Homo sapiens: one gene and its partner. The protein of the gene in region 2 interacts with the protein of the main gene of each other region in a biochemical or structural test. Each region holds a gene or a part of one and is shown on either strand. Other genes may lie near its edges. The genes, in order: SLC27A1 and RPE65.

Region 1 (16,173 bases), on a different chromosome or scaffold from region 2:
AGGACACCCAGGAGGCCTCCTCCCAGGACAGGAGGCAGCTGGCTGGGCAGCCACGCAGTGCAGGGTTCAGGGCCCTCCAGCAGGAGCTCCATGGAGATGGCTAAATGGGGACATCAAGGCAGGGGCTGACAGTGGTGACATCCAAGTGGTCACAGTCAATTCCGGAAGCTTTCAGGGCATCAGGAGGGGAAGGTGGGGCTGGGGAAATGTGACAGGAACGGGGAAGTGCAAAAGGCAATTGGCCTAGCCTGGGAGATTTTCCAGTTGGCCTGGGGGACCCCCGGCTCCTCCATTCAGCAGGGAGGGCGGAGGGCCTGCTTGGAAGTCACATGGAGCTGCAGCATCTGGAACCCAACAGCCACAGGAGGCCTGGATCGGGGCTCCGTAAGGCACAGCCGAGAGGGAGGTGGGGAGGCCCCAGTCCGAGTCCAGGGCCCAGGGGAGATGATTCCTGCAGTCCCCAAAAGCAGCTGGACCCTACACAAGATGCAGCTCCCAGGACACGCGTGTTCCACTCTCGGCAGGAGAGGAGAGGAAAAAGGAAAGGCCGGGCCAGAGGCTCACGCCTATAATCCCAGCACTCTGGGAGGCCGAGGCCAGCGGATCACCTGAGGTCAGGAGTTCAAGACCAACCTGACCAACATGGTGAAACCCCGTCTCTACTAAAAATATAAAAATTAGCTGGACGTGGTGGCGGGTGCCTGTAATCCCAGCTACTCAGGAGGCTGAGGTGGGAGGATCACTTGAACCCCAGGAGGCAGAGGTTGCAGTGAGCCGAGATCCCACCACTGCACTCTAGCCCGGGCAGCAGAGTGAGACTCTATCTTAAAAAAAAAAGAAAGAAAGAAAGAAAAGAAAAAGAGGGAAGAGTTAAGGCCAGACAGGGACAGGGATGGAAGGAGACAGAGGCTGAAAAGCAGGGAGAGGAGGCAGACACAGGGGCACCAAGGCAGCAGAGAGGCACGGGTTCCTCTGAGGTTCCAGTTTCTCAGTCCAGGATGGGCCGTGCCAGGTACAGCTCGGCCAGGTGGGTGTGTACTAGGCGGCCACCCCTGGGCAGCGCTGTCTGGCTCAAGCTGGCCTCTCCCACCAGGCCCAGAGTTTGTGGCCAGTAGAGGAACAGCTTCAGAGGGCGAAGGCGCCCGAGCAGATGCGAGTGTAGACTGCCTCATTTAAGGGCAGGTAGTGGCCCTGCTTCAGGTCCAGGAAGAAGAGCCGGTCTGAGGTCTGGCGTGGGTCAAAGCCCTCTCGCTGCAGCCTCGTCTTCTGGATCTTGAAGGTGCCTATAGTGGGGATGGGGGGCAGATAAGGGCTGAGCAGGTGGCTTCTGGGAGGCCTCAACTCAATATCCTCTCCTGCACCTCTGGACCTTCCCACAGGCTGTCCCCTGGGCAGGAATGTTCTTCCCCATTTTGCCTGCCTGATTCCCCCTTGTCTGTCAGATCCTGGCTTCATGCCCCCTCCTCCAGTGAGGCCTCCCTAACCACTCCTCACCAGGGCAAGAAAATGTACACCCTGCCTGGTCATGTGTCCATTCCCCACATGACAGGCAGGGCTGTGTCTGTTACACAGTGAATAAGAGTTTAGCAACTTACATCCTGTGGGCCAAATTTGGCCCTCCACCTGTTTTTGTAAATAAAGTTTTACTGGGGCCGGGCACAATAATGGCTCATGCCTATAATCTCAGTACTTTGGGACGCCAAGGCAGGAGGGTCGCTTGAGCCCAGGAGTTTAAGACCAGCCTGGGCAACATAGTGAGACTCTGTCTCTGCAAAAACCCTTTTTTTTTTTTTTTTTTTTTTTTTTGAGACATAGTCTTGCTTTGTCACCCAGGCTGGAGTGCAGTGGTGTGATCTCGGCTCACTGCAACCTCCACCTCCTGGATTCAAGTGATTCTCCTGCCTCAGCCTCCCAAGTAGCTGGGATTATAGGCGTGCACCACCACACGTGGCTAATTTTTAAAATTTTGGTAGAGACAGGGTTTCACTATGTTGGCCAGGCTGGTCTCGAACTCCTGACCTCAAGTGATCTGCCCGCCTCGGCCTCTCAAAATGCTGGGATTACAGGCGTGAGCCACCGCACCCGGCCAACAATTTTTTTTTTTTTTTAAATTAGCTGGGTGTCATGGCACGTGCGTGTAGTTCCGGCTACTTGGGAGGCTGAGGTGGGAGAATCACTTGAGCCCAGGAGGAGAAGACTGCAGTAAACTATGATTGCATTATTGCATTCCAGCCTGGACAACAGCAAGATCTTGTCTCAAAAAATAAATAAAAATTTAGAAATAAAGTTTTATTGGCACACAGCCATGCTCATTCATTTGCACATTGTCTATGGCTGCTTTTGCACAAGAATAGCAGTGTTGAATAGCAATCGAGGCTGTATGGCCTGCAAAGCCGAAAATATTAACTATCTGGTCCTTTAAGAAAAAGTTTGCCTGAGCCCAGGACTGCGAGACCAGCCTGGGCAACACAGTGAGACCCTGATATATTTTGGCTGTGTCCCCACCCAAATCTCATCTTGAATTGTAGCTCCCATACTTCCCACGTGTTGTGGGAGGGACCCGGTGGGAGGTAGTTGAATCATGGGGGTGGGTCTTTCCCGTGCTGTTCTCATGATAGTGAAGGGGTCTCACGAGATTTGATGGCTTTATTTGGTGGTTTTTAAAGGGGAGTTCCCTTGCACACACTCTCTTGCCCTCCACCATTAAAAAGTCCCTTTGCTTTTCCTTCGTCTTCTGCCATGATGGTGAGGCCATCCCAGCCATGTGGAACTGTGAGTTCCATTAAACCTCTTTCCTTTATAAATTACCCAGTCTCGGATATGTCTTTATTAGCAGCATGAGAATGGACTAATACAGACCCCATCTCTACAAAAAATCAAAAAAATTAGTCAGGCATGGTGGTGCCTGCCTGTAGTCCTAGCTACTCCAGAGGCTGAGGTGGGAGGATCATTTGAACCCAGGAGGCTGAGGCTGCAGTGAGCTATGATAGTGCCACTGCATGCCAGCCTGGGCAACAGAGTAAGACCCTGTCTCAAACAAACAAACAAACAAAAAAAACAAAAGAAAAAGAAAAGATACACCGAGGCCGGGTGCAGTGGCTCATGTGTGTAATCCCAACACTTTGGGAGGCCAAGGCAGGTGGATCACTTGAGGTCAGGAGTTCAAGACCAGCCTGGCCAATATGGTAAAACTCGATCTCTACTAAAAATACAAAAAAATTAGCTGGGCATGGTGGTGCACACCTGTAATCCCAGCTATTCAGGAGGCTGAGGCAGGAGAATCGCTTGAACCCAGGAGGTAGAGGTTGCAGTGAGCCAAGATCACGCCACTGCACTCCAGCCTGGGTGACAGAGCAAGACTCCATCTCAAAAAAAAAAAAAAAAAAAAAAAAACAAAAAAAACACTATTTCAGAATGCTTAGTGGCAGTGGAAGTGAGGAATGGAAATAAATAACTACTAAAATAAAACAGCAGAAGGGACCCGTGAGAGCCCACAGTGCTAGCTGGCTGTGAGCCCTTGTGTCAGTCCCAGGACACTGTCCTGAACTAGGATGAGTAAATGGTTTGGATATGGTTTGTTTGTCCGCACCAAAAATCATGTTGAAATTATTATTATTATTTTGAGACATTGTCTCACTCTGTCACCCAGGCTGGAGTGCAGTGGCCTGATCTCGGCTCACTGCAACCTCTGCCTCCCAGGTTCAAGCAATTCTTCTGCCTCAGCCTCCTGAGTAGCTGGGACTACAAGTGCATGCCACCATGCCTGGCTAATTTTTTTTTGTATTTTTAGTAGAGACACAGTTTCACCATGTTGGCCAGGCTGGTCTCGAACTCCTGACCTCAGGTGATCCACCTGCCTCAGCCTCCCAAAGTGCGGAGATTACAGGCGGGAGCCACCACACCCGGCCAGGTATTCTTTTTTTTTTTTTTTTTTTGAGACAGAGTATCACTCTATCGCCCAGGCTGGAGTGCAGTGGCGTGATCTGGGCTCACTGCAAACTCCGCCTCCCAGGTTCATGCCATTCTCCTGCCTCAGCCTCCCAAGTAGCTGGGACTACAGGCACCCGCAACCGTGCCCGGCTAATTTTTTGTATTTTTAGTAGAGACAGGGTTTCACTGTGTTAGCCGGGATGCTCTCGATCTCCTCACCTCGTGATCCGCCCGCCTCGGCCTCCCAAAGTGCTGGGATTACAGGCGTGAGCCACCGTGCCTGGCCCCGGCCAGGTATTCTTTTAGAGCAACACAAAATGGACCAAGACATGAATCAACAGACACACTGATGGATGAAGAGAGAGATTGGAGTGGGGGAGACTCGCACCTGTGGTGTCCACCTGGGGCAGGAGGCGCAGGAAGATGGGCCGGGCATAGGGTGCCAGCACCTTCTGCAGCTCCTGGTATATCGCGTTGGGGTCCAGCAGGCTGTGGGGGTCTGCGACGGCCGCCATCCCTGCCTTACCCTCCACTCCTGGAGGCAGAGGCTCAGCTGAGGACACCCCGCCTCTCATCCTCCCCACCAGCAGGACCAGATACACTGTCAAGCAGTAGCCCCTGGTCTGTAATCTCCAGTCTCTCCCAACCTGGGATGACATTTATGGAAGCAGCCACACATTTTGTGGAGCTCCTGCTTGGCTCATTGAAGCCCTAAGACAGGTGGGCTTTCATGATCCCATTTTCTGGATGACAAAACTGAGGCTCAACATCACCCAGGTGAACTGGCTCCAGATCCAGTGCTTCCTCCTGGGCTGCCATGAGCAGTTGTCCAGGTTGTGCACTGCCCAAAGGCATGTGTACTTCTAAGCCCCTTTTGGCTGAGCTCCCTCAGGACCATGCCTCAGGACCACCCCCTGCAACCCCAGCTTGCCTGGAACAGCCACCCCATAGACGGCCACGTCTGTCTGGCCCAGCAGGCGGCTCAGCACGCCCTCCACCTCGGTGGTGGAGACGTTCTCCCCTCGCCAGCGGAAGGTGTCCCCGCTACGGTCCCGGAAGTACATGTAGCCCAGCTCATCCATCACTAGCACGTCACCTGGCAGAGGGGAGAGGGGCAGATGGGTGGAGGATCCCCATCCGCACAGCCAGTCACCGGGGCCTAGCAGGCTGCGCACCTGAGAGGTAGGCGCTGTCGCCCTTGCTGAAGACGCTGTGGGCGATCTTCTTGCTGGTGGCGCTCTCGCTGACATAGCCATCGAAGCGGCGCAGCGGGTCCTGTTGGTTGATCTGACCCACAAGGAGGCCAGGCTCCCCTAGGGAGAAGGCCATGTTCAGGCTGCGCTAGGCAGGCAGGGCGTGGGGACCCCTGCTCCGGGTGGGGACCATGCGGGGGCCCTGCTCACCGGCCTGGCAGGGGATGCAGAGGCCCTGGGCATCCCGCAGCAGCTCCATTGTGTCCTCATTGACCTTCACCAGCCGGATGGGGTACACGTGGGGCAGGATGCGGCTGTTGAAACCACAGGAGCCGACCTGGAATGGGGTGAACTGAGTTGGAAGGAGCCGGGGATATGCGGGGTCCTTCTCAGTAACACTTTGCCTGCCTTGCCCTGGGGCTTGGACCTAGCACCTCCAGTGTCATTCTAAGCTCTGTGACCTTGGCTGATCTGCAAAAGCAGGGTAGTAAGCGTCGCCTCCAACTCAGGGCCCCTCCTCCCACCTTCCCAGCCTGCATTCAGTCAAGAGAAGACCTCTGGCTGGCACCCACTTCCTGATCCACAAAACCCTCCATGCTGGCAGGAAGTAGATGCCTCTGTGTGGACACTACAGCTACGTCAGACACTGCAGAGCTTCACCTGCTGCCCGCCGCCCTGCTTGGCATGGTTCTATGAACAGAAATGCTTCTCCAACATGTTTGAGCCACTACACCCTGTCTGGTGTGTTTCTTTCTGCTTTTCCCCCTTCCTCCGTTCCTCCCTTCCTTCCTTCCTTCCTTTTTTTATAGAGTCTTACTCTGTCGCCTAGGCTGGAATGCAGTGGCGCAATCTTCGCTCACTGTAACCTCTGCCTCCCACGTTCAAGTGGTTCTTATGCCTCAGCCTCCTGAGTCTGGGATTACAGGCGCATGCCACTGAGCCCAAACAATTTTTTTTTTTTTTGTATTTTTAGTAGAGATGGGGTTTTGCCATGTTGGCCAGACTGGTCTCGAACTCGTGACCTCAAGTGATCCACCCACCTCAGCCTCCCAAAGTGCTGGGATTACAGGCGTGTGTGGGTGGCAAGCTACCCAGGTGCCGAGGCAAGAGACCGAGGGCACGAGCCATTCCAGTATAATAAAATATATAAAACAACAAGAGTTATACTAGATCTAGATCATAGACATGATTATATATGAATATCATTAGTCATCAGTTTGTAGCAATTACTCTTTATTCCAGTATTATAATAATCCTCGCTCTGTAATCATAACCTAGAAAAAACCGGGCCATAGAGAGATAGGAGCTGAGGGGACACAGTGAGTAGTGACCAGAAGACAAGAGTGCGAGCCTTCTGTTATGCCCGGACAGGGCCACCAGAGGGTTCCTTGGTCTAGCGGTGACGCCAGCGTCTGGGAAGTCTAGTCTAGCGGTAGCCTTAGTGTCAAGGAAAAACACCTGCTACTTAGTGGACCGGGAAAGGGAGTCTCCCTTTCCCCCGGGGAGTTTAGAGAAGACTCTACTCCTCCACCTCTTGTGGAGGGCCTGACATCAGTCAGGCTTGCCCACAGTTATCCGGAGGCCTAACCGTCTCCCTGTGATGCTGTGCTTCAGTGGTCATGCTCCTAGTCCGCCTTCATGTTCCATCCTGTACACCTGGCTCTGCCTTCTAGATAACAGTAGCAAAATTAGTGAAAGTACTAAAAGTCTCTGATATGCAGAAATAATGGCATAAGCTGTCTTTCTCTCTCTCTCCCTCTCTCTGCCTCTGCCTCGGCTGCCAGGCAGGGAAGGGCCCCCTGTCCAGTGGACGCATGACCCACGTGACCTTACCTATCATTGGAGATGACTCACACTCTTTACCCTGCCCCTTTTGCTTTGTATCCAGTAAATAACAGTGCAGCCAGACATTCGGGGCCTCTACCGGTCTCCGCCTCTTGGTGGTAGTGGTCCCCCGGGCCCAGCTGTCTTTTCTTTCATCTCTTTGTCTTGTGTCTTTATTTCTACAATCTCTCGTCTCCGCACACAGGGAGAAAAACCCACCGACCCTGTGGGGCTGGACCCTACAGGCGTGAGCCACCGTGCCTGGCCTGGTGTGTTTCCTATGCAAGAATCTGAGCTACAGTGAGCAAAAGTGCCCTGGGGGCTGGCCATCCAACACCAAGCACACTGAGGAAGGAGCATTGTTCTTGGCATTAAGGACCCAGCCCCCATGGCACTTGCTGTTTTTTTTTTTCCTTTTTAGAGACACAGAGTCTCACTCTGTTGCCCAGGCTGGAGTCCAGTGGTGTAATCATAGCTCACTGCAGCCTCGATCTCGTGAGCTCACGTGATCCTCCCGCCTCAGCCTCCTTAGTAGCATTGACTACAGGCACCTGCCACCATGCCTGGCTAATTTTTTATTTTCTGTAGAAAAGGGGGTCTCACTACATTGGCTATGCTGGTCTCAAACTCCTGGGCTCAAGTGATCCTCCTGCCTCAGCCTCCCAAAGTGTTAGGATTACAGGTGTGAGCCACTGTGCCCAGCCGACATTTGCTTTATGATCATTATTACGGTCTGTTCTTGGCCTTGGATGGGAGGGGCTTGGGAAAGGAGAGGGAGATTCATGCAAGCGGAGAATGGAGATGATTAAGAGAGTAAGTAGTTGCTAATTATGAAGGTATCTGTTTGCTGCTACTTGGGAGGCTGAGGCAGGAGGATTGCTTGAGCTCAGGAACTGAAAGCTACAGTGAGCTATGATCACGTGGCTGCACTCCAGCCTGGGCGACAGAGCGAGACTCTGTCTCAAACAACAACAACAAAATAACAGCACGGTACACAGAGCCCTATTCTCCTTGCTAATCTCCACACGCAGAAACTGAGGCTCAGAAAGGCTGAGGCACTTGCCAGGGCGCACAGCCATACCTATCCTCCAACTCTCCTGACCCAAGGACCACAGTCACATGACTATCTGTGCAGGCTGCAGGATTGTCCCTCTGGTGGTGCACCGGGAGTCCCAGGAACTCCCCTTACACCCCGCCCTGCGTGCGCCTTGGCGGAGCCTTCCGCGCCAGTCCAGGCTGTTTTATGTATCCCAGGGGCCCCAGGAAGAGGAGACAGTGGTCTTCCCTGAACTCCGAGACCTGCCCCGGGGCCCTGCCGGTGTGCACCTTGCCGTCCATGTTGGCAATGCTGCAGTTGCACTCGGTGGCGCCGTAGAACTCCCCGATTTGGCGTACGCCGAAGCGCTCCGTGAACTCCTCCCAGATGGCAGGACGCAGCCCGTTCCCCACCGCCAGGCGCACGCGGTGTCGCCTCTCCGCCTCGCGCACCGGCTGCTTCAGCAGGTAGCGGCAGATCTCCCCGATGTACTGAACCACCTGGGGGACGGGGTGAGGAAGTGGGTGATGGGACCGGCAGGCGGTGGGGAGCCCGGATCAGAGGAGAGACCCCGAGACCGCCCCACCCAGGGAGCTAATCCTATGAGCGGAACAGCCTAAGGATGATGATGGCTGCAGAATCGTCCACACTCCATTAGGGACCACATTGACTCCTAGGACTCGTTCAGTCTCTTGCAAAGGGTCTAGGATGCAGCTTTTTTTGTTGTTTTTTGGTTGGGGGTCTCCCTGTGCCGCCCAGGCTGGAGTGCAGTGGCATGATCACAGCTCACTGCAGCCTCTAACTCCTGGGTTCAAGTGATCTTCCAGCCTTAGCCTCCCGAGTAGCTGGGACTACAGATTTTTTTGTAGAGATGGGGGATCTCGCTCTGTTGCCCAGGCTGGTCTTGAACTCCTGGCCTCAAGCAATCCTCCTGCCTCAGCCTCCCAAAGTGTGAGATTCCAGGTGTGAGCCACTTGTGCCTGGCCGGATGCAACTTCTATCCAAGCAGATGCAGTGTCTTTCCTCCTCCCCCTACCCGCACCCCTTCGTGGTCCCTCGATTCTGCCAAGCAGCTTCCTGGAGATACCACATCCCTGTCTGAGCCTCAGCAGGCACACAGGGCAGGACTAGCAGGAGAGCTGGCACCCCGCAGGGCAACCCTCAGCCTGGAGCCTACACTGTCACCCAGAGCCCCCTGGCTGAGCCTGGGCTGGCCGGAGCGTCACCCCTGGGCAGACCACTCCCAGGTGCACCCACTAGGCTGCGCTGCGTCTGGACTGAGCCCCAGGTGCCCACGGAGCCACCTGCTCATGGGCTCCCCCTGCAGGACATCTTCCCTCCCTGCCACACATTCTCAAGCCCCGCAAGAGCTTCCTGGGGTCATCCACCAGGTGCCCCACGGTGCCTTTAAGAGTTCTCATCTCCAGTTGGGCTTCGGAATGACTCCCCCCCCGCCACTTTACAGATGGAGAAACCGAGGCTCACAGATGGTAAGGAACTGGAACGAGATCACAGAGCTGGGAAGTGGCAGAATTTGATTTGAACCCAGGCATCCCGGCCCCAGAGTGGGAATAAAACAGTTGCATGCCAGGGATTACCCACCAGATGGATCATAACAGCTGCAAATGTGCTCGGGGCTTCCCGCTCACACACAGGATGAAACCCACATTTCTTCCTGTGGCCAACTGGATCTGGCCCTGCCGCCCCTGCTGCCTCCTCTCCCTCCATCTCCGCTGAACACTCTGCCTCCTCAGGGACTTTGCACATGCTAGCCTTTTGCCTGAAGCAGTCTTCCCCCAGATGCATTTGCCTGAACTCTTCAGTCTCAGCTCAAACGTCACTGAGAGGCATCCCCTGTGCCCCCAGCTGTGCCCCTGAGAAGGTACTGACTAAATAGCTGATGACTAAACCAATATGATCAGCAGACACCACCGCCATGCTCTGAGCTGAGCTTGGAGATGAAGGCACTGAGGCCCAGAGAGGAAATGCAGTGCACCCAAGATCACTGGCTGCTGACCAACAGCAGGTCCCTAAGGGGGAGGGTCCTCTCCCTCCATTCTCAGACTTGGGCCACTGCCTTAGGTGTGGTACAGCCCACACCATCTCTAGGAGAGAACCTGGCCAATCAGCCCAGCCCCTCCTCAGCCAATATGACTGGCTTAAGAATGGGCACGGCCAGGCGGGGTGGCTCAAGCCTGTAATCCCAGCACTTTGGGAGGCCAAAGCAGGTGGATCACGAGGTCAGGAGATCGAGACCATCCTGGCTAACATGGTGAAACCCCGTCTCTACTAAAAAATACAAAAAATTAGCCGGGCGTGGTGGCACACTCCTGTAATCCCAGCTACTCGGGAGGCTGAGGCAGGAGAATGGCGTAAACCCGGGAGGCGGAGCTTGCAGTGGGCCGAGATCGCGCCACTGCACTCCAGCCTGGGCGACAGAGCGAGACTCCATCTCAAAAAAAAAAAAAAAATGGGCACATGGCTGGGCGCGGTGGCTCATGCCTGTAATCCCAGCACTTTGGGGGGCCGAGGTGGGCAGATCACTTCAGGTCAGAAGTTCGAGACCAGCCTAGCCAATGTAGTAATACCTCATCTCTACAAAAATACAAGAAAATTTTGCCAGACCTGGTGGCATGTGCCTGTAATCCCAGCTACTTGGGAGGCTGAGGCAGGAGAATCTCTTGAACCCGAGAGGCAGAGGTTGCAGTAAGCCAAGATCGCTCTATTGTACTCCAGCCTGGGGACAAGAGTGAGACTCCGCCTCAGAAAAAAAAAAAAGGCAAGGATTTTTACAGACAAGCTAGCAGGGAGGCTGTATCTGATCTAAATAGACCGTGAAAAACCGGTGAGGACCAGATGTGCCATCCGCATAGGGCGCAAATCTCTGGCAGCCCCCAACCCAATCTCTTATTATGCAGGTGAGTAGCTACTCTACGTTGCCTATTTTTTTTTTTTTTGGAAACAAAAAATCCTCGGTAGAACTTCCCTTCTAACAAAAAGCAGCCCAAGAAATCACTTATTTTCTAACAAAGAACAGCCTGGAAGATTGGGCTGCAAACACAAATAAGGAAGCTGGAAGCTTGCAGCAGGGGATGCCAGCAGCTGCACCGATAAAAAGGGCTACCTGTGGCCGGGCACGGTAGCTCACGCCTGTAATCTCAGCACTTTCGGAGGCCAAGGTGGGTGGATCACCTGAGGTCAGGAGTTCGAGACCAGCCTGGCCAACATGGTGAAACCCCATCTCTACTAAAAATACAAAATTAGCCAGGCGTGGTGGCACACACCTGTAATCCCAGCTATTCAGGAGCCTGAGGCAGGAGAATCACCTGAACCCAGGAGGTGGAGGTTGCAGTGAACTGAGATCGCACCACTGCACTCTGGCCTGGGCAACAGAGTGAGACTCCGTCTCAAAAAGAAAAAGAAAAAGAAAAAGGCCAGGCACGGTGGCTCACGCCTGTAATCCCAGCACTTTGGGAGGCCGAGGTGGGCAGATCATGAGGTCAGGAGATCGAGACCATCCTGGCTAACACCGTGAAACCCTGTCTGTACTAAAAAATACAAAAAAAAAATTAGCCAGGTGTGGTGGCGGGCGCCTGTAGTCCCAGCTACTCAGGAGGCTGAGGCAGGAGAATGGTGGGAACCCAGGAGGTGGAGCTTGCAGTGAGCCAAGATTGCGCCACTGCACTCCAGCCTGGGAGACAGAGCGAGACTCCGTCTCAAAAAAAAAAAAAAAAGAAACAGCTACCTGGGGCTGGGCATGTCCACCCTGGGGGCTCCACCATCCCTTTTTTGTTAGCACGTGTACAGTAAGAAAGAAATAAGCAACAAAAGCCGGCTGCTGTGGCTCATGGCTGTAATCCCAGCAGTTTGGGAGGCTGGGGCAGGCAGATCACCTGAGGTCAGAAGTTTGAGACCAGCCTGGCCAACATGGTGAAACCCCGTCTCTACTAAAAATACAAAAAATTAGCTAGGCTTGGTGGTAGACCCCTGTAATCCCAGCTACTCAGGAGGCTGAGGGAGGGGAATCACTTGAACCCAGGAGAAGGAGGTTGCAGTGAGCCGAGATCACACTACTCCATTCCAGCCTGGGAGATGCAGCGAGACTGTGTCTCAAAAAAAAAAAAAAGTAAGGTTCTAGATTATAGCCTGCTGCCCCCATGAGAATGGCTAGACTGCAACTGCTGCTACAGATAAAATAGCAGTGAGCAGTTTCTCATGAGATGTAATTTCTGAACCCAAATAAATGTATGCTCTTGTTTTCTCCTTGTGTCCTTATTAAACATCACCTTTAGAGATTCTGTCCTGTTTTTTTTTTTTTTTTTTTTTTGAGATGGAGTTGTGCTCTCTCACCCAGTCTGGAGTGCAGTGGCGCGATCTCGGCTCACTGCAACCTCCACTTCCCGGGTTCAAACGATTCTCCTGCCTCAGCCTCCCGGGTAGCTGGGACTACAGGTGCCCGCCACCATGCATGGCTAATTGTTTTTGTAGAGATGGGGTTTCACCATGTTGGCCAGGCTGGTCTTGAACTCCTGACCTGAGGTGATCCACCTGCCTCGACTTCCCAAAGTGCTGGGATTACAGGCGTGAGCCGCCGCGCCCGGCCCTGTCCTCTATTTTTCTTTTTTTTTTTTTGAGATGGAGTCTCACTCTGTCGCCCAGGCTGGAGTGCAGTGGCACAGTCTCAGCTCACTGCAACCTCCACCTCCTGGGTTCACAGGATTCTCCTGCCTCAGCCTCCCAAATAGCTGGGACTACAGGTGCCCACCACCGCACCTGGCTAATTTCCCATCCTCTATTTCTTTCTTTTTTTTTTTAAGACGGAGTTTCGCTCTCGTTGCCCAGGCTGGAGTGCAATGGCACAATCTCGGCTCTCACTGCAACTTCCACCTCCCGGGTTCAAGCAATTCTCCTGCCTCAGCCTCCTGAGTAGCTGGGATTACAGGCATGTGCCACCACGCCCTGCTAATTTTTGTATTTTTAGTAGAGATGGGGTTTCTCCATGTTGGTCAGGCTGGTCTCAAACTCCAGACCTCAGGTGATCCACCCGCCTCGGCCTCCCAAAGTGCTGGGATTACAGGCGTAAGACACTGCGCCCGGCCCCGTCCTCTATTTCTTTTTCTTTTTTTTTTTTTTTTTTTGAGATGGAGTCTCACTCTTGTCACCCAGGCTGGAGTGCAGTGGTGCGATCTCGGCTCACTGCAACCTCCACCTCCTGGGTTCACAGGATTCTCCCGCCTCAGCCTCCCAAATAACTGGGACTATAGGCGCCCACCATGCCTAGCTAATTTCCCATCCTCTATTTCTTAAAAAGCCTCTCAATGTTCACTGTGTGCCTTATTTGACACAGAAATTCCACTTCTAGGAAACTGACAGAATGAGCTTCCAAGGCCCAGGAGACAGTAAGTAGTAACCAATGCAAGATGGTGTGTCAAGGACAAAGAGAGACCATCAGACATGACGGGCTTCCCAGTGGGAGGACACCACACCACCCATAAGGAATCTTTGCCAAAAAAGTTGAGTTTGAAGCCGATAAAATATATAGACCAGCGATTCTCAAGCGGGGACCATTCTGTCCCCCAGGGACACTTAGCAACATCTAGACACATTTTTTTAATTGTCACAACTTGGGGGAAGGGGACTGCTACTGGCATCTGGTGCAGGGAGGCCAGGGATGTTGCTAAATATATGCTACAATGCACAGGACACGTCCCACCCCAGGGAATGATCCAGCCCCAAATGTTAAGAGTCAAACCTGTTCTGGACACTATCTCAATTTCTGTAATAAATAAATTCCAAGAGGGAAGAGAGACAGACAGAAAGAGAAAAGGCACCTACAGATGAAATATTTTCTTTTCTTTTCTTTTCTTTTTTTTATTTTTTTGAGATAGGGGCTTGCTCTGTTGCCCAGGCTAGAGTACACTGGCACAATCACGGCTGACAGCAGCCTTGACCTCCTGGGCTCAAGCAATCCTCCCACCTCAGCCTCCCAAGCAGCTGGGACTACAGGCACAAACCACCACAACCAGCTAGATTTTCAATTTTTTTGTAGAGATGAGGGACTCACTATGTTGCCCAGGCTGGTCTACAACTCTTGGGCTCAAGCGATCCTCCCGCCTCGGCTTCCCAAAGTGCTGGGATTACAGGCATGAGCCATTGCGCTCAGCCAAGAATTCTTACAAGACACATCAACCAGTCATAATGCTGGTTGTGTATTTAATTATGGAAATAAGAAAAAACACATTTTTGACATTGTGAGACAGAATTGAGCCACTGCCCAGATTCCTGATGACACTGAGATATCACTGTCACTTAAAAACAATGCTTACCAGACACAAAAGGCGACAGTGTCTGACTCCATTGATCTGAAATGTCCAGAACAGGCAAATCATAGAGGCAGGAAGCAGAATAGTGGTTGCCAGGGGCTGGGGGTGGAGGGATGGGGAGTAACTGGGGATGGGATTTCCTTTGGGGGGCATGAGAATGTTCTGGATCTAGATAGACATGGTGATTGTACATTGTGAATGCCACCAAATTACTGACTTTTTTTTTTTTTAAAGATGGAATCTCACTCTGTCACCCAGACTGGAGTGCAGTGGCCCGATCTCAGCTCACTGCAGCCTCCGCTTCCCAGGTTCAAGCGATTCTCCTGCCTCAGCCTTCCAGGCAGCTGGGATTACAGGTGTGTATCATCATGCCCGGCCAAATTTTTTTTTTTTTTTTTTTTGAGATGGAGTCTCACTCTGTCACGCCCAGGCTGGAGTGCAGTGGTGCAATCTTGGCTCACTGCAACCTCTGCCTCCCGGGTTCAAGCGATTCTTCCGCCTCAGTCTCCCGAGTAGCTGGGATTACAGGCACCAACCACCACGCCAGGCTACATTTCTGTATTTTTAGTAGAGACAGGGTTTCACCCTGTTGGCCAGGCTGGTCTCAAACTCCTGACCTCAAGTGATCTGCCCATCTCAGCCTCCCGAAGTACAGGGATTACAGGCGTGAGCCACTGTGCCTGGCCAAATTTTTCACTTTAATATGGCTAATTTATATGAATTTCACTTTAATTTGAAAAAACAAGTACTCATCTTTCAAAGGTTATAGTGAAACAGCTACACAGGAAACATGATGCCGTCTGAGGGATGCTTTATGCCATCACCGAGGGGAGGATGTGGGGAGGTGGGGAGGGGCAGGACAGGGTATCTGATAGCCTCTGGGTCCAGCTGAGGGGTGCACCAGAACTCTCTATACTTTTCTGTCCACTTTTATGTGTATTTGCTACTCTCTGTAATTTTTTTTAAAAGATAATTTTGGGCTGGGTACAGTGGCTCATGCCTGTAATCCCAGCACTTTGGGAGTCCGAGGTGGGTGGATTGCTTGAACCCAGGAGTTTGAGACCAGCCTGGGCAACATGGCGAAACCTCTTCTCTACAAAAAAAATTCAAAAGTGGGCCAGGCGTGGTGGTGCGCACCTGTAGTCCCAGCTACTTGGGAGGCCAATGCTGGAAGATCACTTGAGCCCAGGAGGTCAAAGCTGCAGTGAGCCATGATAGCGCCACTGCACTCCAGTCTGGGCAACAGAGTGAGATCCTGTCTCAAAAAATAATAATAATAATAAAAATATACTTTTGCATTTCAACATGCAGATTAGTAATTTTCCCAAGACCCTCCAAACAGAACCAAAACTCCTCAAAAGCGAAGCCAAGCACAGCTGTGGACCTTGTGGTATACCCCAAGATGCTCAGCCCAGAGCCCCCAACCCCTGCTCAGCTGTGTGACCTGGCCTGAATCTCTCTGGGCCCCATCTGTCCAATCTGCATCTGCCAACTTGCCACAGTCCCTGGACAACCTCTCACCCAATCCTTCCCAGTCAGCCTTGCTATTCCCTCCGGGCTCCATACCTGTTTCCTGTACCTCCCGCCTGTATTTCCTGTATCCTGCCCCACATTACAGCACTGAAACCCTCAGCCTGGTCTCCTCTCACTGTGGAGGGGAAAGAAGAATTCCTGTTCTTAACCTCTGCCTGCTCTCCTCTCCGGGACAGCAGATGCCTCCACCTCCGCCTCACGCGTTCCTCACCTGGAAGCCCCAGACTCATCGCCCTTCCCATCCCAGGGTCTCAATTCCCTACAGTCAGCAGCAGGGAAGACCCACAGGGCACAAGGCATGGGGAAGGCATTGCCTTAAGGAGCTCAGGCACCC
Region 2 (7,112 bases):
CAGATTTGGAAACGTGCACTCAAATAGGGTTGTGGCAAGTGGAGTGTAGTGGAGTCACATCTTGCAATAGCTGGAGGTGGGTTTTAAGTCAGGGGAGTAGGGAAGAAACCTCAGAATGGTCAAAATGCCTTTTGCAACATCTTAAGATGCCCAAAGGATATAGTTTAGATGGGTTTGTGTCAATAGCCCTGTACAGTAATTCTTATGCACATTAAAATTTACTCACTAGTAAGTGAATGGTCCTCAAACTTTAGTGTGCATCAGAATCACATAAAGAGTTTCTTAAAATACTGATTGCAGGCTCCACTCCCAAAATTTCTCATTCAGTCTGCCCAGGACAAGGCTCAAGATTTGTATTTCTAACAGTTTCCTAGGTGATGGTCTTGGTCCAAGGACTACACTTTGAGAACTGTACTAAATAATACTAAACAAAAATCTGTATACATTCAAATAATTCCATCATCAAGGTGGTGAACAATGAACCTGGCAATAAATGAAGAATGAATGGAGAATTCTAGGGTACACTCTTTTTGCTGTAGTTCTTTTTCTATAGTACTTCTATGAGATAACAGATTTGTTTGTAGTTTTGGGAATTAAGCGCAACATATTTAGTACACTCTCATATATGTATGTATGCTATTATGCACACATACATGCTTATTTAATTTAATTTTGCCTAGCACATGAATAAGTGCTCAATAAATGTTTGCTAAGTTTGAATCCTAATTGTATATGATCAAATCCATATATATATATGTACTACATTTTTAATATTCTAGAAGAGAACTTGGACACTTGCTTTCTATATTTTCAAGTCGTCATCCTTTGATATGATGCCCTTGGGCATTAGGCCCCTTATAGGGTAGGGATGAGGGCAGTACTTCTGAAGTCTGAGAGTAATTTAACTATGCACAAAATGCTATTCTGACATTCTTATCTTTCTCACAATACAGTAACTTTCTCACAATATAGACACTTATTTTCAGAAGAGGACAGATTGGTAAACTCACCTGCTTGCAGTGGTGGGATCTTTACAATGTTGTAGGCAATTGAAAAATTTTTTCCAAAGCAATTACCAATATTGTAAACGGTTCCATCATTTTCAATGTGGGGGTGAGCAGTGGCCCCATTGACAGAGACATAGTTGCAAAGATCAACCTACGGAAGTAAAGTGAATGTCCTCCAGTTGAGAGAAGGAAGATACATTATACCTTTGTCCCTAGGTCTGAGGTCATCACTACCCCTTGAACTCTCATCCTAAGTGCACTTCTCTTTCTTCCCATCTCTCTGGATTCTACCCTCTTTCACCTTGAGTTCCCACCTTCATGCAGAACATAATGCCCCCTCATGTGTCTGAATCTGGAGTTACCTGTGACATCTCTTTATTTGATGTATACCATACAGTGCTCTGGTTAGTTACTTTTCTTTTAGCATATGCAGATTGACCTGAAACCATAAGTTTGAGTCCTCAGACTTCTTTATACTCTTATTATTGTATTAGATTTAATTGTATAAGATTGCTAACATTTAATAATTGCTGATTTCCAAAAATGTCAATTTCGTATGGTACTATGTAAATACCAACTATATGTCTTGCACATGGTACTGTATGAGTTTGGAACTGAAAGGGACTTCAAGCTTCATCTAGTATAGAAAGTCTTAATTTAAATAGACTTTAGGAGAACCATGGATCTCTTTTAATTAAATATAAACATTTCTGGCAAAAGCATACAGCATTTAATTCAATTTTATGTCTCATAAGAAGTTTAGAACTACAAATGTAACACAAATCTCTGTTTGCAGAAGGATAAATTGGGGTTCCAGAGAGATCAAGTGTCTTGTTTAAGGATAAAGAGCTAGATAAATCAGCACTAGATTTCCACCTGGGACCTACTTGGTAAAGAGTTATTGAATGAATAATTACTGGAATATATATTTATCTAACCAAAATTATTTCCAATTAATTAGGGAGATTTTTTTAAAGCATAGGACATTTTAGCAACCTTATTTAAATAATAGGCAAGATATTCATTTATTCAGTCAATCATTTATCAAATACTCTGAGCTTTCACTATGTGCCAGGCACTGTATCAGGGCTCAGGAGAGAGAAGATCTTTGCTTTCAAGAACTTCATTCTAGACCCGTGCTGTTCTATTAATACAGGACCACTAATTTTTAGATAGAACTTCAAATTCAGCTCCTCAGTCACATTAGCCACATTTCAAGTGCTTAATAACACCAGGATAGCACAGTTATAGAGCATTTCCATTATTGCAGAAAGTTCTATTGGACAGCCCTGCATTAGACCAATAAGCCGGTGTAAAGCACTGTGAGTGTGCAATGGCATCGTAGAGAAGCGCCATCTAGCCCAGACTGAGGGATGAGGCAGTTTTCCTGAGAAACATGACTCCAACTAATGTTTGAAAGGTGCGTGGAGTTAGCCAAGTGGAGCAGGATGACAGTGTATTCCAGGGAGTGGGAATCCTAATGTAAATGCATAGACTTGTGAAATAATGTGTGCTGTTTGGCCATTACTAGTCATTTAACCTGGCTGCCATGAAGGGCATGCGTAGAGGAGGCGAAATAAGAGTGGGCCAGCCACAAAGACCTTCGCTTGGACTTTATTTGGGAAGTTATGGATTCCCTAGGTGGAGTAATACTTTCATATTTATATTTTAAAAAATTGCTACTGCTGCCTTAAATAAATTGTATTTAAGGGAATCAGGCTGGAGGCAAAGGCACTGGTTAATAACAGTAAACAATCAAAAATTTCACATTTTTAAAATTACATTTTACAGTGCTAGTAACAGTGGAACCTGACTCCTAATAAAGTCTATTCTGCAGCCATACCATAGCTTCTATATTTCTAATTAAAATATCATGTAATTGTAATACAGATTCCCTATCAAAGTCAAATGAATGATTTAGAAACTCAGCTTTTGTTCTTCTCTAAAGGAGCTACACACACACTTGTATATGGTTACACACACACAACATAAACAAGAAAGAGCTATGGGGAGTGTATGTTAAGACATAGTAAATAGTCTGTTGAGAATTATAGATCAGCTTGTGCTATTGAGACTCAATGTTGAGACTATTTTTTTTCTTCTTATTTTTACCAGTACTGCATTTGTGGTTCTGGCTTTTAGTTTCACCTCTTGGTCTCCCAGCTATACTGTATCTCTTTTGCCTTCCCGTACAGCCCACACATGGCTCCCCAAATAAACATCTGAAAATATAGCCCTACTCATACTACTTCTTTGAGCAAAAACTTTCAGTAGCTTCCCATTAGCTAAACAACATATTCCAAATGTATAGCCAATTATTCAAGCTTTTAATTTCATCCTACCCTGTGTCTCAATATTCCCCTTGACATTAACTACTCTAGGCAACTAGTTCTCAACTGGGAGTGTTATTGCCCCCTAGGGGAAGATACGGAAATGTCAGGAGCGTTTTGGGTTTGTATAATGATTGAAAACATGACTGGTGTTTAGTGGATGAGGCCAGGGATGCCAAACCTCTCCCATGTGTGGGACGTCTCCATGATGATGAGTCACCCCCTGCCTAATGTCATACTAATACCTCCACTGAGAAATGCTGCAAGTCTAGTCCAAGGAGATTATTCTCCAGTTTTCATGAACACCTTCTACCTCCATGCTTTTGATCGCTTTACCCCCTCCATCTAGCATATCCTTTCTCTAAATTCACTGAAATCATCCCTCTCTTTTAACTTCCAGCCCAAAGCCTTTCCCTTTAAGCCTTCTTTCACCTGTCCCACCTTGCATTGCCAACTACTTCCAGAAGTAATTCCTTTCGTATTTATGCTTTCTTAAAAGATTTTCCTTCTTAAAAGACTCGTCATATTCTTTGTCCTATTACAGTTACATATTTGATTTCTCCACCTAGACATTAAGTCACCTGAAGACAAGAACAATGCCTTGTAAATAGGTGTATCTTAGTAAATATTGGTTCAAAATGTGTATCTAAGGACTGCTGCATTGAGATTCCCTAAGTTCTCCATAAAATTTGTCACTTCCAAATATTGCTGAAATTTTGTTCTATGCTATTTCATTCAAGATATAGCTTTATTTCTAATAAGAAGTATCTATAAGAAGGGGCAAATTAGTGCAACATACTTGCCTAGAACCATAAATAGCATGATTTTCAGTATCAGTAGCTATAATTTTTTGAGCACCCAGTATTTACCAGGTTCATGCTAGCTTATAAAAGCTATGAAAGGCAGGGACCATGTTACCCTACTCATTGATCTATCCCTTGCATCTAGCATAAATTCTGAATATGGAAAGCACTTGATAAGTATTTGTGTCATGAATGAATGAATGAATATGTTAGGCATTTTATATGGGTTCTCTCCAATCCATGTAAGTGTTTAAAATTTTAGAGATGAAGAAACAATGTTTGTCCTATGTCAAATAGCTAGTCATTGTTGACAATGCTAGGATTTGAAACTTAATGTGGCTCTCATGTTCTTTTCACCAAATTACACCAATTGCAGGAAAGCATCATAGACAGAGGCAATCAGTGCAGTCCATTTGGAGCTTGGAATGGTCATTCTGTGTGTCCTCATCAAGTTAGAATCATACATTCGCAGCATGAATAATTTATGTTGAATTAATTTTAAGTTCCAAATTCTAAATTCCTGAACATCACCTAGCACTGTGTCCCACCTGCTTAATTGTCTCCAAGGTCTCTGGATTAATCTTTGTAATAAAGTTGGTCTCTGTGCAAGCGTAGTAATCTTCCCCCACTGGGTAGACATTAACAAGGGCATTGTCAGTAACCTCTACTCCTCGAAAGTAAGAAAAAAACCTGTAGAAACAAATGAATTTTTCAGTCCAGTAATTTTCAAGCCATGAGAGAAAAAGGGCTAATATAAAATGTCTTGAGTAACATTCAGTTTGGGTTCAGTAACCTGGAAAATATATTCTTGCAGGGATCTGGGAAAGCACAGGTGCCAAATTCTGTTATGACGATCCTTTTCTCAGTCATTGCCCGTACGTAAGCATCAGTGCGGATGAACCTGAAGGACATTGAAACATAGGGAAGAGTATAGACAGGAGCAATCCGTACAGCCCATGTGGAGCTTAGAATGGCCATTCTATGTGTCCTCATCAAGTCACAATCATAAATGCACAACATGAAGAATAAAGGGTTTTATTAGCTCACTTTCTTGGGGTGACCAAGCAGGGCAGACACAATGTCCCTTGAGTTTACGTTTTTATCTTTTAAACCTCACAGATGAGGAAATTGAGGTTCAGAGGAGTTAAGTGATTGGCATATGTGGCCAAGCTGGGTTAGAATCCTAGTTGGCCAGAGCAGGACAACATGAACTTTCTATATCACACCATGCAGCCCTGGGGGAAGTTCACATAGGACCCCCACCCCCATCACCTATAACCTATCAACCTAAACTTACTGGGAAAATTCCGGACATGGTGTGCTGAATTATATTCTTCTCAATCTCCCTCTGTTACTTTTATGTTTTTCTTCAATTTTAACATTTATTTTGTTTTAAAAATTAAGTATTCTTGAATTCCATCTCTTGCCTAGACAGGTCTGCTAAACCATATCTTAGAGTAGACAGCATACTTTGCCCAGGATTTCTGATATGGAGAGCCAGTTAAAATCTGATTTTGTACTTTTAATTAATTAATTAATTAATTAATTTGAGATGGAGTCTTGCTCTGTTGCCCAGGCTGGAGTGCAGTGGCGCAATCTTGGCTCACTGCAACCTCCGCCTCCTGGGTTCAAGCTATACTCTTGCCTCAGCCTCCCAGGTAGCTGGGACTACAGGCGTGTACCACCACGCCCGGCTAATTTTTCTGTATTTTTAGTAGAGACGGGGTTTCACCATGCTAGCCAGGCTGGTCTCAAACTCCTGACCTCAAGTGATCTGGCCGCCTTGGCCTCCCAAAGTGCTGGGATTACAGATGTGAGCCACCCACACCCGGTCGCACTTTTATGAAGAAGAAAGAGTACCCTGCTCTGTCGAAGGTATAGGAAGCTTTATCTGAACTCCACAGTAAGCTCTTATGGCTACATTTCTGCTTGACATCATCCGTTTCTCTTCTATTATCATGCAAGTTGTCCTGCTTCAAGTCCCCTTTCACTTTTTCTTTACAGGTCTTTTCAAAATGCCTGAAATCTGTGGTGATCAACAAAGCCACTAATAGGCTTGAACACGAAAGCAGAAGACAAAGTATTTGTTAATACTTCATTAATGGGGGTTTCCTGGAATGATGATTTAGGGCTTCAAGGCTTTTTAGCAATAATCTCTTGTTTTCAGAAAACTTCTCTTTCTGGTAGCACTATGACATGTTTCATCCTTCACTACTTTGTGGCAGCCCCCGACCCCTTTCCCAGTGGCCTTTCCAATTTTATAAAAAGAAAAAGGAATCAAGATGGCCAATGGTTTAATAATAATAACAAGCATCACAATAGCTATTATTATGAAGTGCTTTGTGTGTGCTAGACACTGCGCTCTCATTTAATGCTTGTAATGAATATATAAGGTAGATTCTATTATTTCTCCCATTTTACTAATTATAAAACCAAGAATTGGAGGTCAACATCTTGCCAAGGTTACCCTCCTAGGCAAGTCATGTCTGTTGAATACAGGGTTTAAAGCCACTCATGTTGGACCCCAAAGCCCTAGGCTTTAGCTTCTCCTTTATTCCATGATAATGTTCCCTCGTATCCATGCAGACACACTGGCCCAGGTACATTGTGAGAAGAAAGTGGGTATATAGGTTGCCTCCTGAGTTCAGAGGTGAAAACTCACATGGGAGGAGGAGCCAAGCTAGGCCCTACTTTGAGGAGGAGGAGTGGCATGGAGTGCTGCTTTACCTTCTGTGGTATGTGACATGTCCTTCTTTAAAGTCAAACTTGTGCAGGAGGGCTTGCCCATCAAACAGGTGGTAAAATGGCTCAGATCCAACTTCAAAGAGTCCTGGCCCACATCGAAGGAGACTGCCGGTGAGCCAGAGGGGGATCCTGCCTGTGATGAAGGGGAGACAGAACATTGCTTCTTATCCCTGCCTTGGGCTAGGCTTGTCCTTGGTAAGGCAGAGTATATCAGCAGCCTGATTGGG

The links.
Region 1: the proteins of RPE65 (region 2) and SLC27A1 form a complex in vitro, tested with the Homo sapiens proteins (one study listed by BioGRID).

What each region holds. Positions count from the first base shown.
Region 1 is NC_000019.10:17,489,565-17,505,737, reverse strand, and holds part of SLC27A1 (long-chain fatty acid transport protein 1), read right to left. Parts: intron 14,663-16,173; exon of another isoform or gene 14,541-14,662; intron 14,346-14,540; coding exon of another isoform or gene 14,310-14,345; intron 8,484-14,309; coding exon 8,274-8,483; intron 5,461-8,273; coding exon 5,334-5,460; intron 5,244-5,333; coding exon 5,106-5,243; intron 5,027-5,105; coding exon 4,862-5,026; intron 4,466-4,861; coding exon 4,319-4,465; intron 1,284-4,318; coding exon 1,126-1,283; 3' UTR 1-1,125. UniProt on the Homo sapiens protein: Mediates the import of long-chain fatty acids (LCFA) into the cell by facilitating their transport at the plasma membrane.
Region 2 is NC_000001.11:68,439,843-68,446,954, forward strand, and holds part of RPE65 (retinoid isomerohydrolase), read right to left. Parts: intron 7,019-7,112; coding exon 6,868-7,018; intron 5,042-6,867; coding exon 4,934-5,041; intron 4,831-4,933; coding exon 4,689-4,830; coding exon of another isoform or gene 4,668-4,688; exon of another isoform or gene 2,606-4,667; intron 1,159-2,605; coding exon 1,011-1,158; intron 1-1,010.